Linked DNA regions of Homo sapiens: region 2 is linked to region 1. Evidence: fine-mapped expression QTL. Tissue or cell type: whole blood. Region 1 holds a variant in brackets; the other region holds the start of a gene. All regions are shown on one strand. Distances are between the middles of the regions.

What was found. PIP is the estimated chance that this variant, and not a neighbour inherited with it, causes the effect.
Region 2: it holds the start of STX16, and the variant in region 1 is fine-mapped to the expression of STX16 in whole blood (TOPMed, PIP above 0.99).

The regions. Positions count from the first base shown.
Region 1 is chr20:58,671,335-58,679,512 of GRCh38, reverse strand. It overlaps STX16 (syntaxin 16), which reads right to left. Exons shown (of 9, transcript NM_001001433.3): 8 at 5,802-5,882; 9 at 1-3,326. The coding sequence ends at 3,222. STX16-NPEPL1 (STX16-NPEPL1 readthrough (NMD candidate)) reads right to left here. Exons shown (of 23, transcript NR_037945.1): 8 at 5,802-5,882. Among named protein-coding and RNA genes, the nearest start is that of NPEPL1, 17 kb to the left of the region's middle. RefSeq lists enhancers at 2,636-3,160, 3,161-3,686. The variant A/G (reference allele first, on the strand shown) is at 3,785.
Region 2 is chr20:58,647,552-58,655,729 of GRCh38, reverse strand. STX16 (syntaxin 16) reads right to left here and starts at 4,447. Exons shown (of 9, transcript NM_001001433.3): 1 at 3,592-4,447. The coding sequence starts at 3,723. STX16-NPEPL1 (STX16-NPEPL1 readthrough (NMD candidate)) reads right to left here and starts at 4,477. Exons shown (of 23, transcript NR_037945.1): 1 at 3,592-4,477. LOC107985410 (a long non-coding RNA gene) reads left to right here and starts at 6,095. Exons shown (of 3, transcript XR_005647058.2): 1 at 6,095-6,741. RefSeq lists enhancers at 3,078-3,581, 3,419-3,688, 6,718-7,255 and silencers at 5,185-5,544, 7,943-8,178.

The DNA of each region.
Region 1 (8,178 bases):
AGGATTGCAGGATGTTCTTTAATCTGCGTGATTGCTTTATTGTACAAAAAGTTTCCAGTAACAGTAAATTGGTTTTAAAAAAGGACAAAAAAGTCATTTTGGATAGAAGTGCTTCACTAATTGCTTTATTTAAGCATACAAGAAAAAAAGTTTTATCTGACCAATTACGTTGGAAGGGTTTTATTACCTTTAAGAAGCCATTAGCTAGGATAAAACACTGAAAGCACTTGTGTCAAAACAAATAAATAATGTAAATAACGCTCTCTCAATTAGCAGAGAAAACAGTGAATCCGTTAAATCAGAGACACACATCACTTCACAAGCATGGCCCAGCCAGCACCACCACCCCCAAAACGAACAAAACAAGAGACAGCAGTTTTCAGTTACAATCTTGGGAAAGATCAGGAGCTTTGGAAAACGCGTGGTAAACATGTCTGTTTCTCCTTCTACCTCCACTCAACCTGAGCTGCACCCGGACACTTTAAAGGAGGCATGTGTCCAGAGGCTGCATCCAGGGATGCCCAGAGGGAGCCTGCCCTGCTAGGCCTCCTCTCAGAGGGCGCATCCCAGGCAGAGGAGACTGGCCTGGGTGATCGTTACCTCCACGGCCCAGTAGAGTGTGGAAAAACATGAGGTGCCCACAGACAATGGCTGCCAGCGAGTAAAGGGAAAGAAACCCTGAGGTACCATGATTCTTTTCTCTTACTTCCTCAAATGCTACTGATCTCTCCCCAAGTACAGGCTCAACAGAAAAATACAGTGGTTTGAGGACCCCAAGAAGTCAGCACACAGGCCAGGGGCCAGCTCCAGGCTGGGTCTGTCTCTCCCACCTTGGGAAACCCAGCGCTAAAACAATTTTTTTTTTTTTTTTTTGAGACGGAGCCTCGCTCTGTCACCCAGGCTGGAGTGCAGTGGTGTGATCTCGGCTCACTGCAACCTCTGCCTCCCGGGTTCAAGCTATTCTCCTGCCTCAGCCTCTTGAGTAGCTGGGATTACAGGCGTGTCCCACCCGGCTAATTTTTGTATTTTTTGTAGAGACGGGGTTTCACCATGTTGGCTAGGCTGGTCTCGAACTCCTGACCTCGTGACCGCCTTGGCCTCTCAAAGTCTGGGATTACAGGCGTGAGCCACCGAGCCCAGCCCCTCCTTAAAACAGTTTCTAATCAGATCCGTTATTTTACCCAAATGGGTTGAGGGAACAAAAACCAACCCTCATCACCCTATTTGGTGAAAATAAATATAAAAAAAGATGATCCTCTCTTAAAGGGTCACTTTCCTTCAGGGGTTTGTAAGGCTCAGCACTTTAAAAAGCTTGAACAGAAGTCCGGTATTGCCACTGTGGACTGTTTTTGAGGCAAGTTCCCTAATGTGGACAGCCCCACACCTAAGAGCAGCAGATCTAACTTGGAACGTCTCAACCATGGGTTAAAATCAGATGGGATGAAAGAACACCTGCAGTGACTCTCAACAGCTACGGAAGTCTCACATTGCAGGGCTGACTGATGAGGTGCTGGCTTCTTATTCTCCGGCCCTCTTTCCTAAGCAATGTTTGTCAGGGAATACCAGGTCCGCTTCCTGAAATGCCAGGGCCCCTCTAGGACCTTATCATTCCACAGCCACATCAGTAATAGGAAAACCACCAATGGCTACCTGGAGGTGGCACCAACTTGGAAAGGGAAGGCTGGGCAGGGGTTTGGACACTAAGCCCATGAGCTGTTTGGACAACTTCAATCTCTGGAATTGAGTTTAAATTTCTGTAAACAACTTTAAAGTCAACTCTAGAGAGACATTTTGTGTGACTGGTCCAAATAAAACAGCACATTTAATGAGGTCATATTCTTCTTAAACTTTTTAAGAGAAGCAAAAACAATGGAAAAGCCATTAAAATTTACACAAAGACCATTAAAACTCTACTAGTGTCAATTAAAACAAAGCCAATAAAACATGAACAACTTCAAAGTTACCATCACTTTCCACACTGTTCTACAGTTATAGGAATATATTCAAGCACCATATTGATAATAGGTAGGTAAACGATGAAGTCCTACTTTGGCGGTCTGACCCACGCTCACACAAACGAGGAGCTTCCTAGTCAAGATGCCCCCAGTCCTTGGCAATGTGCCTGCTTCCTGGGCATTGCTCAGTGGCAATGGAAGAGCCAATAAATCAAATCGCTGGTGGAATATTTTACTTTGAAATGGAGTGATGTTTGGTTAATAATTTGAGATCCACTAATCCTAAATGGGGTGACCCATTTAAAATGGCCTCTGTGTAAATTCACAGTTCATTAAATAGAGTCTGGTTTGAACAGGTCATTATGTAGTTAGTATATAAGTAATGGATTGAGCAAGGATGGCTGGGGATACCCATGGGGACACACTGGCTGAGTCTGGTGGCTTTCATAACACTGTCAAGCTTTCTTTTAATGTGAGATTCATTTAAATCACCAACTTAAATTTAGGTGGTTTTGCTTAGTAACCTCTTTTGGTTTACAGTAGAAAATGCAGTGCAAAAATTTTAAATGAGGAATATTCCATTTACAATTAATTTAAAACTTATGAAGCTGTTTTAACTGGCCCATCTAAATGTGTTAATTAACATCAATGATGGTTTCTTATTTTTCACACTTTGTTACTCTGATCATTAACAGTGATGGAAAAGCTAAATTAAGTTAATGGGGAACGGATTATAAATTCTTAAAGGACTTCTTAGTTTGTTTTCAACTGGAAAATATATAGAGAAAGATGAAGGGGCATTTTTGCCTCTACTCATCAATTTTTGGTACCAAATTTCTTAAAAACCAGATGGTTTAAAGAAAATTTTTCCAAAAATTATGTTAACATTCTGCTCAGACATGGCTGCTAAAAAAATAGCATATACACATATAATACTGAACAGCTTCTGCAGTGCCTGTAAACTCTCAGCTCATTTTCTCTTTCTAAAAAAAATATATATTATAACTGATCCCAGAACTCAATCTCTATTGTGCAGCAGTATCAAAGGTCCTTAAATTCTCAACAATGAAGGAAAAACAAAAACCCATTCCCCGGACCGCTTGAGCAGGACTAGGGAAGGAGGAGTCCGTGGATGCAAAGGTTCGCTGCCCCGACGCCCTCAGATTCCTCGAGGCTGCACCTCTGCGGGCAGCTGGCGGGGCGCAGGCCAAGCCCCTCACACCCGGGAGATCCACACGCGCGGCACACACGAAAACCCAATGCCACTTATCGAGACTTCACGCCAACGAGGACAACAATGAGCACAATGATGATGACAAATAATATTAAAATCACAAGCATCTTCCGATTCTTCTTTTGATACTGTTCTGCCTACAAAAAGAGGAGGGAAAAAAGGCCGTCATTTTCCCCAAAATCCCAAATCAAGTCCCACTCGTTTCCAGAATGAGGCTTCCAGATCTCTCTGCACAGTGACTGAGGTCTCTGCTACAGGCTACATGATTGTAATCCCTCCAATCAATCCCACGGAATTCAATCACCAGGAGTGGAAGAGCCCCATGATCCTGGTGCTGCTTATTTACCCTGGACGTGGAAATGGATTTGTTGGAAACCTACTACTAAGACAAAGCCTGACAGGGAAGTGAAAGCTCATGCTTCCGGGTGCAGCTGGGCCTGCTTCTCCCGGCTTTTCCTCCTGCAGGCCGTGGCAAGTGCCCCTGCAGCACGGGTCGCCTGTTCCCGGTCCGTGTTCCTGGAGCGAATGCACAGTTCCTTCACCGCGGAAGGAAACAACGGGCTGGAGGACCGTACCTGGCAGGTAGGCAACAGAC[A/G]CCCGGAAGAGGCCCCATTTCGACCTCCCCTAAATTTGGAAACAAAAACTCATCCTTTGAAATAAAAACAGACACGTGTGCCCCATGGATGTCATATGCAGAAAGATCCCTCTGAGGCGCGTCCTCCCAGTGCCGCTAACGATACAGCAAAGGAGCCCTCCAAGCTCAATCTGGGGACGAGGCTGCACCCTGCACATCTCTTCACCTTAACACCGCATCCTGGAAGCTCGGCAGGAGCGGGAACTCCATCATGCCTGCTAGAGAAATGCCAAAGGGCCCCACCTGGCTGGCGAAAGACGCAGAGCACTGAGAAAGGAGAGCCAGAGGACAGCAGAGTTCAGAGGGCGCCGGGAGGCACGTCCAGGGAGAGCATGCGCTGCCTCTTCCAGACCTTGCTATGGCACAGGAGGGAGGAGGAGACAGCGGGAAGGCAGCCCTGGCGAGAATGGCAATCTCTCCTGCTCCATCCCCCGCGGTGGGCTTGTTTCCTAAGTGAGCCTGCCCGCCCACCTGGAGGAGCCCCTCATCCACCAGGAGGAAACATCAGGCACGGGGACAGCACCGAGAGTCCGGTCATGGGGAGCAGCTCCCGACGCTCAATCACCCTTAGACTAGCCGACTGCCGAGCACGCGCGTGCTGCCTACAGCCTTGTGGCTGGAGGGAAGATGGAGCACGCTGACTTTTCTAATAAGTAACCCAGAACACCAGGGAAGCCAATACTAAATAATATACTGTAAAACCTCTCAAAATGATTTATAAAGTAGAACCTAAAACAAAATTTTTAGTTCCCACTAGATTTGCTCACTCCCGCAGAGAAAGCTTTTCCTTTTATCTGTGTTATATTACAAAACATATTTCACTAGTTTTTATTTAAGAAACTTCAAAACCAATGCATAATTCAGCAGCACATCAAAACCTGGGTATTACAGAGTGAGAAACTTAAGTTAGTTTTCACTTTTAATAGACAGGGCTTGGCAACCAAATTAATCTAAATGCTTAAAAAAACCCTGCATAGACAAGGTCAGACTTCTCTTCCCACCACAGGCTGGAGTCTCATATCCACCTACACATGGCAACAAGCCCCCTGAAAAGACAGCTCAGGGCTTCTGGTTAGACTAGTGCAAGGGCTGACTTTTTGTAAACCCAATACTGCTATTAAATGGGGCGATCTCTGGTATAGGAAGCGACTGATTTCAGAAAAATGGTAGAGTAGTCCAACAGTGAATTGGCAAAACACTCATTATATGGCTAGAAACTCCACTGGGTCTCAAAGATACAAGGAAATGGATATTATTTAATTTGTGAAGTATTGTTATATTCCTTTTAAAGAAAATACGTAACCAATTATATATGAGAGTCTCAGCCGTTTATGCATGTTTCTTATAACCGATAAGATTCCTAAGATGCTTTCCATCTATTTTTTTAAAAGAGAATATCATAAAAACATCCCTGAAACAGCTACCTTATTAGCACAGAATAAAAGAATTACTACTCTCACTTCAACAAACTTCTCTTTTCTCAAGGTAATACAGATATGCTGTGGTAATTAAAGAGAAGATTAGATTTTTATCTTCTGCAGAATGATTCTCCATCAGCAATTCATCAGGAATGTATCACAAGAGAGGCCCAAGTCAACGGCAACAAGCAGACAGATTTTCAACACATATTTTAGCAAATGCCCAATTGATTTCCTAAAACAAGAAGCATTAGAAAAGAATGAAATATTTTCTAAAAGAAAGAACTCCAATCTCTTTAGAATTTACTGTCACAAAAAGGAGTTCTTAGCAATTTTGGATTTAAGTGTGAGATACACCTGGAATCATTAACTGCAATAAAACGGCAACAGCCCCCACAATTGGCTTTAAATGAAATGATGAATCCCTTTTTACACTACTGTATTGAGAGTGGACAACACAAGAATGCTGAAGATCGTTATGGTGGAAAAGAACCCTCTTACCAATTCTTGATTATTTGAAAATAGTTCCTAAGATTCCCAAGTCTTGAAAGACATATTACCTTGTGAAGCTGTTTCAAACCATCTTCAGTTTTGATACAGGACTGTTCAACGTTATAGTCAATTCTGTCAAGGACTGTACCCTAGGTAATAAATGACAGTTACAGACAATCAACAATAGCAACTGGGAAAACTGAACGTCAAAAATGAGATATGCAAATTACAGACATCATCATCCATAAGATGATGTTTTCCTTCCCTGTGTGCTGCAGGTACACACGGAGGGCTCTGGAGTTCACCCTCAAGCAGTGTCAGGAGCTCGATGGCAGAATGCTGGTTAGTGCCATCACATCTAGCTCACGAGAAAGAAGTACTGACAGACTGAGGTTTCCTTATTGGTTTCAGCTGCCATAGAAATGCCATATTCGGACTTCCTGGGGCCCTAAGAAATCTATGGTCCAGTGGACAGAGGCTCTGAGCAGCACAGAAGCTCTGCGCCCATTTGCTGCCTACGTACTTGGATTCAAGTAAGCAGAGAACACCAGGTAAGCTCGCCCCTGTCATAAGTAGACCTGCAAATTGACTATCACGTCTATAAACGTGGATCCACATCTCTATGGGTCAGAGCAGGAAATGGTAAACTCCAGTCTACCACCTAAAATTAAAAATTTGGACTCAAGGGGAAGATGTTTAATTGTTTAATCTCTTAAACAATTAAATTGGAAGACGGGGACACTGGGCTATGAGGAAGAACAGAGCTTTTATTGGAAACATGCTGGATTAGAAGAGATAGCAGTTCACTGGGAACCACTGGAGTAATTAATGTAACTGGATCTTCCAGAGCCTGAACACTCCATTCTGCAGTTGGTTTCAGGGGGATCAGGACCCAAATCCCTGCTGGCAAGATAATAAAATGCCCTAATCAGATTTTAACGGTGAACAACAATTTAATTCTACTTGAACGCTAGTGGTTCCAATTGCCATTACACAATAACCTGCCAAAATTAGAAGGGAAATCTTCTATAGCGTCAGAATCATTGCTGAGCTCGGTCAGAGTCAACTAGGTCTCTAGAGTAGGGTGCTCACATGAGTACCCTCGAGGCATGGGAAGAGAATATTAGAACTTCATTTATCAAAAAAAGATTTATTAATATTCTTATAGGGAATGACAGTAGCCTATGTATATAATTTGTAAATACACACATATACAGGCTGAGTATCCCTTATCTGAAAAGCTTGAGACTAGAAGTGTTTTGGATTTGGGATTTTTTTTTTAGATTTTGGAATATTTGCATACACATAATGAGATATTCTGGATGGGACCCAAGTCTAAACACAAAATTCATTAATGTTTCTTATACCTTTATGTTTCATATACCATTAATGTTTCATATACATAGCTTGAAAGTAATTTTATACAATATATATATATATATTTTTTGAGACAGAGTTTCACTCTTGTTGCCCAGGCTGGAGTGCAATGGTGCAATCTCGGCTCACTGCAACCTCTACCTCCCAGGTTCAAGCGATCCTCCTGCCTCAACCTCCCGAGTAGCTGTTACAGGCACCTGCCACCATGCCCAGCTAATTTTTTTGTATTTTTAGCAGAGACGGGGTTTCACCATGTTGACCGCGCTGGTCTCGAACTGCTGACCTCAGGTGATCCATGTGCCTCAGCCCCCCAAAGTGCTGGGATTACAGATGTGAGCCACCGTGCCCGGCCACAATATTTTTACTAGTTTTGTGCATAAAACAAAGTTTTGACTGCAACCTGTCACATGAGGTCTTGTGTAGGGATTTTCCACCTGTGGCATCATGTTAACACTCAAAAAGTTTTGAATTCTGGAGCATTTTGAACTTCATATTTTCTGATTAGGATTGCTATGTATATATATCCTTTGAGTGTCATATTGGCACTCAAAAAAAAGTTTCAAATTTTGGAGCATTTTGGATTTCAGATTAGGAATGTTCAACCTGTATTATCATATATCATATTATTATTGCATTCCTCTCATTTAATCCCTAACAAGCATCCTATGAGGATGGTACTATGATTATTAGTCCCATTTTACAGATGAGAACACTAGAGTCAGAGGGATTAAATGAGAATCATGTAACTGTTAAACTGCTAAGAGCCAGGGTTCCAACATTCCAACCCCCCAGGGCTTTTCTCAAAGCACCACACTCCTCTGATAATTAGCACCCAGGAGACTTCAGTAAAAAATGTAAACACTGAGGTTTCAACACTAGTCCTATTATTTTAAAATTAATCAAATTTAATATTTGATTAATATTAATATACACACACACACACACACACACACACACACACACACCCACACACACATAAAGGACAGGTGCACACACATGTTGGGAAAATTGGCTCCAATTTTTTTCCCTGAAAGGAGTACAGGAAAAAGAAGGTACAGATAGTATGGC
Region 2 (8,178 bases), 24 kb after region 1:
TGCAGGGTTACCAGACAGAAGGAAGACCCGAAGGAACAGAACTAAAAGCAGGACCCCAGGACACAAATAGTTGGGATTAACAGGCAAAGACTTTTTAGTGGTAAAAATCATGGAGCTGCTGGCATTTTCCATCATTGTCATACACCATGGCCAAATAAGATAGGCATGAGGGGTTATCACAAATGGGGACATTAGGCCAAATGACCTTTAGGTTCCTTCTGGCCCTTGAGGCTTTGTGTTTATCTGGTCACTGCGTATCCTCCTTAAATTCCTGTTTATTTGACATATTTGCCTGAATGCTGCAAAACCCTGTATGCACGCACAGGGACACACAATAACCCCACTACAACAACCAAATTCTAGTTTTTTCCCTCAAACTAGGATGCAAAAAATGCATGTTTAAATTTTTTGAATGGCATGGCTTTAGGTGTGCTTTGCTTTGAGGTGTATGATACACACTACTCTGCAATTAATTTCTGCAGCTTTTTCCTGAAATAAGATGTCAAAATTCAGGATTACAATTTTTTTTTTAAAAAGTCTGTTATTTTAGGTGTATTTTTAGTTGGTATCAAATGCATCAAGATCAAAGTCTACAGCTTTTTCTTCTAATTGGAAACTTAAAATTCCAGGTTATTATTTTTTAAATTAAGTTAAACTTAGGTTTAATTTCTTCCTTTCAAATTGCCTGAGTGTTAGACATGTATTTACAAATTGCCTCTTTTTAACTGTTTTACTTTACTATAACAAATATACTTACTTTAAGTTTCTATTTAAAAATTTTCAAACATGCAGAAAAGCCTACAAAATGGTAAAATGTCGCACACATACTCATCACTAGACTTAACAATGAGTAACAATTTGCCTTATTTGCTTCCTCTATTTTTGGAGGGGTTTAAGGACTTAGGTAAGATGCCTTGACATTTCACCACTAAACATTTCAGTAGGCATCTCTAATAAAATTAGCAAATGTAATGTATTATAATTAATTCCTTAATGTCACCTAATACCTAGTCCATATTCAAAATTTGACAGATACGATTTTGTTTGGTTTGCTACATGGCTTTGAAATTTACAAGTCAGAAACAAGGCTTTAAATTTTTTGTGAGCTAGATATGCAGTGAAAAGCATTGCTAAGAGTTACTCAATAGATTTTACAAATTGTGTTAAACATGGCTTTTGCTTCAAAATGTTTATAAAGCTTTTCCAACTTCCAGAAAAGTTGAAAAAATCATAACCTCTATTTAGTCTTGTTAGCATTTCGCCGTACTGTGTGCAGAATAGATTTTGTTACGAATCACCTGTAAGCAAAGTGAAGATGTAACACTTCAACCCTAAATACTTCAGAAATTTATGACATGCCATTTTTTAACACAATTAAAATATATAAATCTGTGTTTTATTTTTAAATTTGAATTCAGGCAAACTATGTTTGTTAGACTGCAAAACCTATTTTTGAGATAGTATGGATTGACTATAAGGATATTTTAAATGATATGACTGCTTTCAATGATCTGAGAAAGATTTTAAATGGTCAGACTAATATAAATATTAACATTTTCAATGGTATGACATTTAGAAAACATTTTTTAACGTTCTTAGAAATGTATTTTTAGTTGGGTTTAGAAATCTATTTTCAAAAAACTGTGAGTTAGCTAAATGTATCTGTATATACCCTGACATATCTATTTTTCCAAACTGTATACGTTAACTATCCATTTTTAATTATTCTGCTTAGCTTAAATATTTTTTAAAATTGCCTAACTTAGAAAATAATTTTCTAAAGTGGTCTGATTCAGAGATGCACTTTTAAAAAGCTTCCCGTCTCAGATACTAGGTTTTTAAACTGTCTGACTTAATCGGGAAAAAAAAAAAAACCCTCATGTTACCCAAAGGTTCAGGGTATTTTGAACCTTAATGATTAAAAATTGAAAAATAAACAATATGTTTTTCAATTAAAACTGATACCTTAGAAATCTTAATATGAGTTTCAGTAGTTTTTGAGGCAGCACAAAATCAAGTCATTTAAGGAACATGCAGTTCTTATTTAACATTACTGAAGTTCCATTAAGGAATTGAATTCATCCAATTTCTACTCGATTTCTTGGATTATTTCTTCTTCAAAATTAGCGCTAGAATTAGCCTGTTTCTATGCTACCAGACATCTTTACATTTATTTCAATATAATGTAATTCCTTTCCGTTTATAAATGTAAAAAAAACCCTTCAACTTCTTAATTAACTGAAATCTCACACACACTCTGTCCCTAGTTCTAGGCTGTTTGACCTGAGTTTACATGCTTTTATTCCTGAAACCGCTCACACGGCTTAAAATGACTTTTCTATCAGTTATATGGCCAAAGACATTCTCCACCTGTGACTTACAAAAAGGAGAAACTGTCTTTGTAGACATGATAATCATGACATATGGCAAAATTTTCCTGAAGCATTTAGATAAAGCCATAAAGAAAAAAATAAACTGGCAATACAGTCCCTAAGAGGTGAAATGAATGTTCCAAAATTGCCTAATATCAAGTATAACCCCCAAGAATGTGGTCCTGGGATGGCTATTTCCCGCCTGTTCCAACGCTGCTTCTATTCCAACCTAGTCTGCCTACAGCAGGTAGCCTGAACTACAGCCAGTTTCATAACTTCACTTTTCAATTGAAGACATTACAGAGCTAACGATCACTGTCTGGTATAGATCATCCAGACTCGCCCCTTATTTAACAGAGCAGTAAACTGAGGCTCAGAAAGGGAAAAGTAGCCCCCATTAAAAACAAACCCCAAACAGTAATTTTTCCAGGACCACCCTTAAAAAACGCTACTGCTAGGCTAACTAAAGGTTGTGGTTAATTAAAAAAAAAAAGTGCTATTTTACGGGGTTAATTTTCACATATACCTCCTCAGGCTTTTTTTAAAAAGTTCGAATGGAGAGGAAAGCTTAATTTCCTGTCTGGGAAATGGAAAGTGAAGAGGCTAGCACCTTGAGTCTCACAAACGCAAGCCCCCAGGAAGAACAGTGAGGCAATTATTCACAGGGAACAAGGCCACACAGAGGGCTGCGGGGCCGTTAAAAGAAAACGGGCGGAAAAACAAAACAAAACAAAACAACAACACAACTCCCTCCTCTTTGAGGGGAGGGAGTCGTTCATTTTGCAAGGATTTGGGTCTACGATCCGGCGACCCAGCCCTTAGGACCAAACTGAGGCTCATTACTGGGGGGAGGGGAGCTTCAAACAAAACGAAACAAAAAGGCTTCAGAAAGGCCCAATGCTTCCCAATGTTAGCGTTAAAACATATGTAAATTACAGGCGGCCTGTAGCGCAGTGACGCCAAGGCGGGGGGTGCGGGGGGGGGGGTGCTGCGGAAGTGAGGAGAAGACCGGGCAGAGGTGGAGCTGCGGCCTCACAGCACCGCTTCTTCCTCATCCAGGGCTACAGATGCCCCCTGACTCTAGCCAAGAGATCTTATTATTCTTAGTCTTATTATTCTTATCTTCTCTTTTTAAACAGAGAGACAGACAGAGACAGACAAACAGGCAGAGCCGCAGTGCACACGGTCCGTGTGTCGGAGAGGCCGCCAGGAGACTCACCGCAGCAATGCTACGTGAATGCAGAGGGCTGGAGGTGATGTGACTACTCACTTGCTCGGCTAACAGCTGCCGGTTTTGGATGGAATTATTCCGCAACAACAAGAAAGCGTCGGTTAAACGCCTGGTGGCCATGTCTCACCCTTTGCGACCCCCCTCTCAGGGGCCCCCCGCCCACTTATATTCCTGATTTATTCACTTTCTTTCTCGTGGCCCGGCTGGCCCACCCTTTCACGGAAGCTTCTCGACAAGGCCTCAGGCCTCAAGCCAAAAAGATGCAGCTGTGCGCTTCGCCAAGGCGTAGAGACCCCTCCCCAAATAACTACCTAGGCTTTCCAATTGTCTGACTCCCCCTACCCAGGGCAGACTTCGATCTCTAAGCACTTGAATCCCCCCAATCCTTGCGTAGCGATCCAACGTCCCAGAGACCCCACCCCAATCCAACCTTGGATCTACAAGCGTCTAACTCGCCAATCCGGCTCTAGACTGGGAGGCCCTGAAGCCCCCTACTCCCTGAGACCCCCCGGAGGTCTCTGCTCTCTACCCCTAACTTTGGCTCGTAAGCGTCTAGGCCGTGCCCTGAGGTCTGGCTGTGACTCAGTTTCCGCACCAGAGGCCTGGCCTAGGCCCTCTTTGGACAACCGGAGCCAGGCTTGGGGCCTGGACTCGAGGGCGCCTGCAGCTCCCTTCTGGGGACTTGTCTGAACCTGCTGAGGCCCTGCCCGACCTCCTGACCCCTTCCTTTCCTGGACGGCCTGGTCCTCCACTGCCAGCAGGCTGCCGGCCTGCAGGAAGACAGCAGGGCCTGCCTCCCCGGCCTTCTCACTCCTCTTCTCCGGCTCCCTCCATCCCCGGATCTGACTGCAGCTCAGCCCCGGACCGTTTCCGTGCTGTGGTCCCGGGTTCTGGCGTTCCCCCCTGGCCCTCTTCCTGTCCGTCCCTCGCGAGTGCCCCCCTGCGACGCTCGCAAGCCTTGCTCGCAACGTTCCGGGCGCGGGAGCTCCCTGCACTCCTGCCCCGGGGCACGGGAGTGCTCCGCCCTCTCCCGGGGTGCTCCTCGGGCGCCCTGTTTCGCCTCCCCCAACTGGGTCCAGGCACTAGGAGCAGGCCAACGAGCAGGCCTGAGCCTGGGGAGCGTGGCCCCCAGGCTGCAAACCGCTGCCAGGGCCCTTGGTCGCTGAATTAGAGTGGAAGTTGCGCGGCAGGCAAATTTGGGCTCCCCAAGAACTGAAGTTTTGGGCGCGGGGAGTTGGAGCGGGAGAGGAAAAGTTGGAGACGACTGCCTCTGCAGGCCGAGCACGCTCTACTGCAGGCGGCGGCGCTCGCTTTTTTTTTTTTTTTTCCCACTCTGGAAAAAGATGTATCCGACAAACAACCACGAGGAAATAAAAGGAAAAAAAAAAAAAAAAAAGGAACAAGAACTCCAGGCAGCCTGGCCGCGCCGCCGCTGGCAGTCGGGGGTCGTCGGGGGCGCCCGCCCTCCCCAGCTGCCGCTTTCTGTAGGGGGCACTGCAGGGTCGTGGAATCTCAAGTGGAAAAGTTCCCCGAAAACTTTGACACCTCCCACCCCCCTCCCCGCGAAAAAAATCTCTGTTCCCTGCCTGGGCCCTGGCCCTGCGACCCCCGCGCCCCCCCGTGCCCCGGGCCGGGTTTTCCACGGTTGGCCGGGCCCAGGGCGCCCTAAGCACCTCGACTTGCCGCCCCGGGCCAGGTCGGCGGGGTTCGTGCAGGGGCTCCGTGGGGCCGCGTCGGGCAGGGGCCGCCCGGGCCCGAGCACGGCACCCACAAACAGGCTGGCGTCCCGCGACGGAGACCCGGGTCCGGCCCGGAGCCGCCCGGGAGGCTTGAGGCCAAGGGCCTGGCCCAGCGCGCGGCCGGAGCGGGTCGGGGGCGCAGAGCTGTGCGGCGGCGCCTTCCGGGCCCCGGGCCTGTGCAGGGCCGGCTTCCCCTTGCGGGGCGAGGCTGCGGGCCGGGCTGCGGTGCGGGGTTCCAACAAAGGACCGAGGCCCCAGAAGCGGCCCCCACGCGTCCTTTGTTTCTGCGTGGAACAAACTTTACACACGTGTGTGTTTTCCGAGGGTTTCCCGTGTGCTGAGCGCTTGCAAAGCGGAGTCGCGCCCGGGGAGACGCGAAGCCGGTGCCCGCGGCTCACCCAGGGACCCCAGCCAGACAGCGGCACCCGCGGGGCGCGTGCGGGACCCCCAGGCGACCGGGGGAAGCACCGGTAACCGCCCCCCACCCGTGCTTTTTCTCTCACGGAGAATGTTCCCGCGCGTTCGTTGTGCAACTAAAAATTAATGTGAAACATCCATTGAGGCAAATAACAAAATGCATCCAACGAAACCCACATAAAATCGAGAGAGCCGCGAGCAGGGCTGGGCGAGTTCACTGTGAGGACCGGCTCTGGCTTCCGCGCAGCGCGGAGAGCAGGGCGCTCGCCCGGGGACGCTTCGCAGCGGTGGAAGATTCGGGCGACAGGGGACTGGGTCGCCGCGCGGGCCGGGCTGGAGGCTGCAGGGACTTGCTGACAGGCCATCCAAAGACAGAGAGGCCCTGGGGAGGGAAATTCGGGGAGCCCGTGTGCTTAGCGTAGCGCCCCGGGAAATATTTGCCCAATAAGGGAGAGTTTGTCCCCACACTGCGGCAGAACCCCCCTGCGAGCTCTGACCCCAGCAGCACGGCCAAGCCCCCCCAACCCCGCTCCCCCCTTTAGGGGACAGGTATTTGTAAATAACAACTGAGCTGGTCGTCGGTAGGAGAATCAGATTAGAAACATGGTCCCCACTCTCTTCCTATCTCCCCAGCACTCATCACCTCACAAAGCAGGGGGGGACCTGTTTACTTTTCCTGGCGCTCTCCCCCAGGCTAGAACGTGATCTTCTTCCTACGCAGGGACAGTGTTTTATTCATCTTTGTACCCACTGCCATCTCATCTGGCTTGGAACAGGCTCCGGATAAATATTTTTTAAATATGTGCATGAATTAATGAGAGACTCGAGATTTAGTCCCCAAACTCTCTGACCTCCCTCGAGTGACTTTAAGCCTTTAGAGCCCTTATCTGTTAAGAAAAAAAGAAAAAAATGTGGGTTTTTCGTAATCCTCGTAATCCGCGCCCTGTCTACTTCTCTGGGGTTATTGTGAAGATCAAATAAGGTAAGTGAAAACTCTTTGTAAACTACCAGGTGCTGAGCAAATATTATATAGGATGGTTATTCATTCATTCCCTCCGTTCAGGAAGCTTAGCAAAGTAATTCCTGGTCTTGTGTTTCAGCAGATGGTGGTCGCCTTTCCTGGTCAGTCTTAAATATTTATTACAGGACAATCTCATTCTTACATTTAGGAGATCAATCAAGCTTCCATTTCTTTGAGCGAAATGAACACTGCTTGCACACAAATAATGGAAGAAAAATCCTGGTATTCCCAAAACAGCCACCCCAAGCAACCCAAGAGCCTAACAGCGGGGAGGTCAGGAAAATCCAAGAAGTTGGCATAGCAGCCCAAAGGCAGCACCGTGCAGCTCTGACCAGGCCCCAAAGGCAGCACCGTGCAGCTCTGACCAGGCCCCAAAGGCAGCACGGTGCAGCTCTGACCAGGCCCCAAAGGCAGCACCGTGCAGCTCTGACCAGGCCCCAAAGGCAGCACCGTGCAGCTCTGACCAGGCCCCAAAGGCAGCACCGTGCAGCTCTGACCAGGCCCCAAAGGCAGCACCGTGCAGCTCTGACCAGGCCCCAAAGGCAGCACCGTGCAGCTCTGACCAGGCCCCAAAGGCAGCACCGTGCAGCTCTGACCAGGCCCCAAAGGCAGCACGGTGCAGCTCTAAGCAGGCTGTGTTTAGGTATGGGATTGTGTGCCTGAAATAGTGTTAACCAAGAGGGAGCCCAGAGAGGGCATGCACCCCTGGCTCCAGTCACGTCCATGGTCCATGTTCGCCCTGACCCACACTGGAAGGGAGTTGGGGAAGGATGTAAATCATTATATTTGAATGTTCCTTGGCTGTTTTATTTTCCTGTCAAGTGACTTAAGCTTGATTTTTTTTTTTTTTTAAAGCATTCCCCCATGGCCAAGTATGTGTTTCCTTGGAATTGAAATCTAGGTTGATGGTTTTACATTTTAAAAGCTTTCATTGTGACTCATTCTTGGCCTGGGCTAGGATTCGGTAATACTCCTCGGGCTTGGTGAGGCTCCGTGTCCTGTTTCTTGGGCTTCATACCCACTTTCTAACATTCTGCCAACGAATCCAATAAGTCACTTTTGGGGACAAGTGTTTCATTGTTTTCTTGTCATCTCATTCAGTGCAGGAGGAAGCCCCATTGAAGCCAGGCCATGGCTTGGGCAGGTGCAGGTTTTCAAGTACTGAGAGGGGATGGTTAGCTCAACAGGTCAGCAGTGGGACACACACCCTTTGGTGAAAACAATTTAAATGAGATAGGGCTCATGTAAGCCCTTATACAACCTCAGCATAGAGTAAGTGCGCCACAAATGGGCAATATGATTTATTACAGCAGTAGTCTTACTGTTGGAAAGCTCACGTGGGCTCTGCTCTCCCTGGAAGGCATCATAAACTCCAAAGAGAATGGCATGGTATTGAGA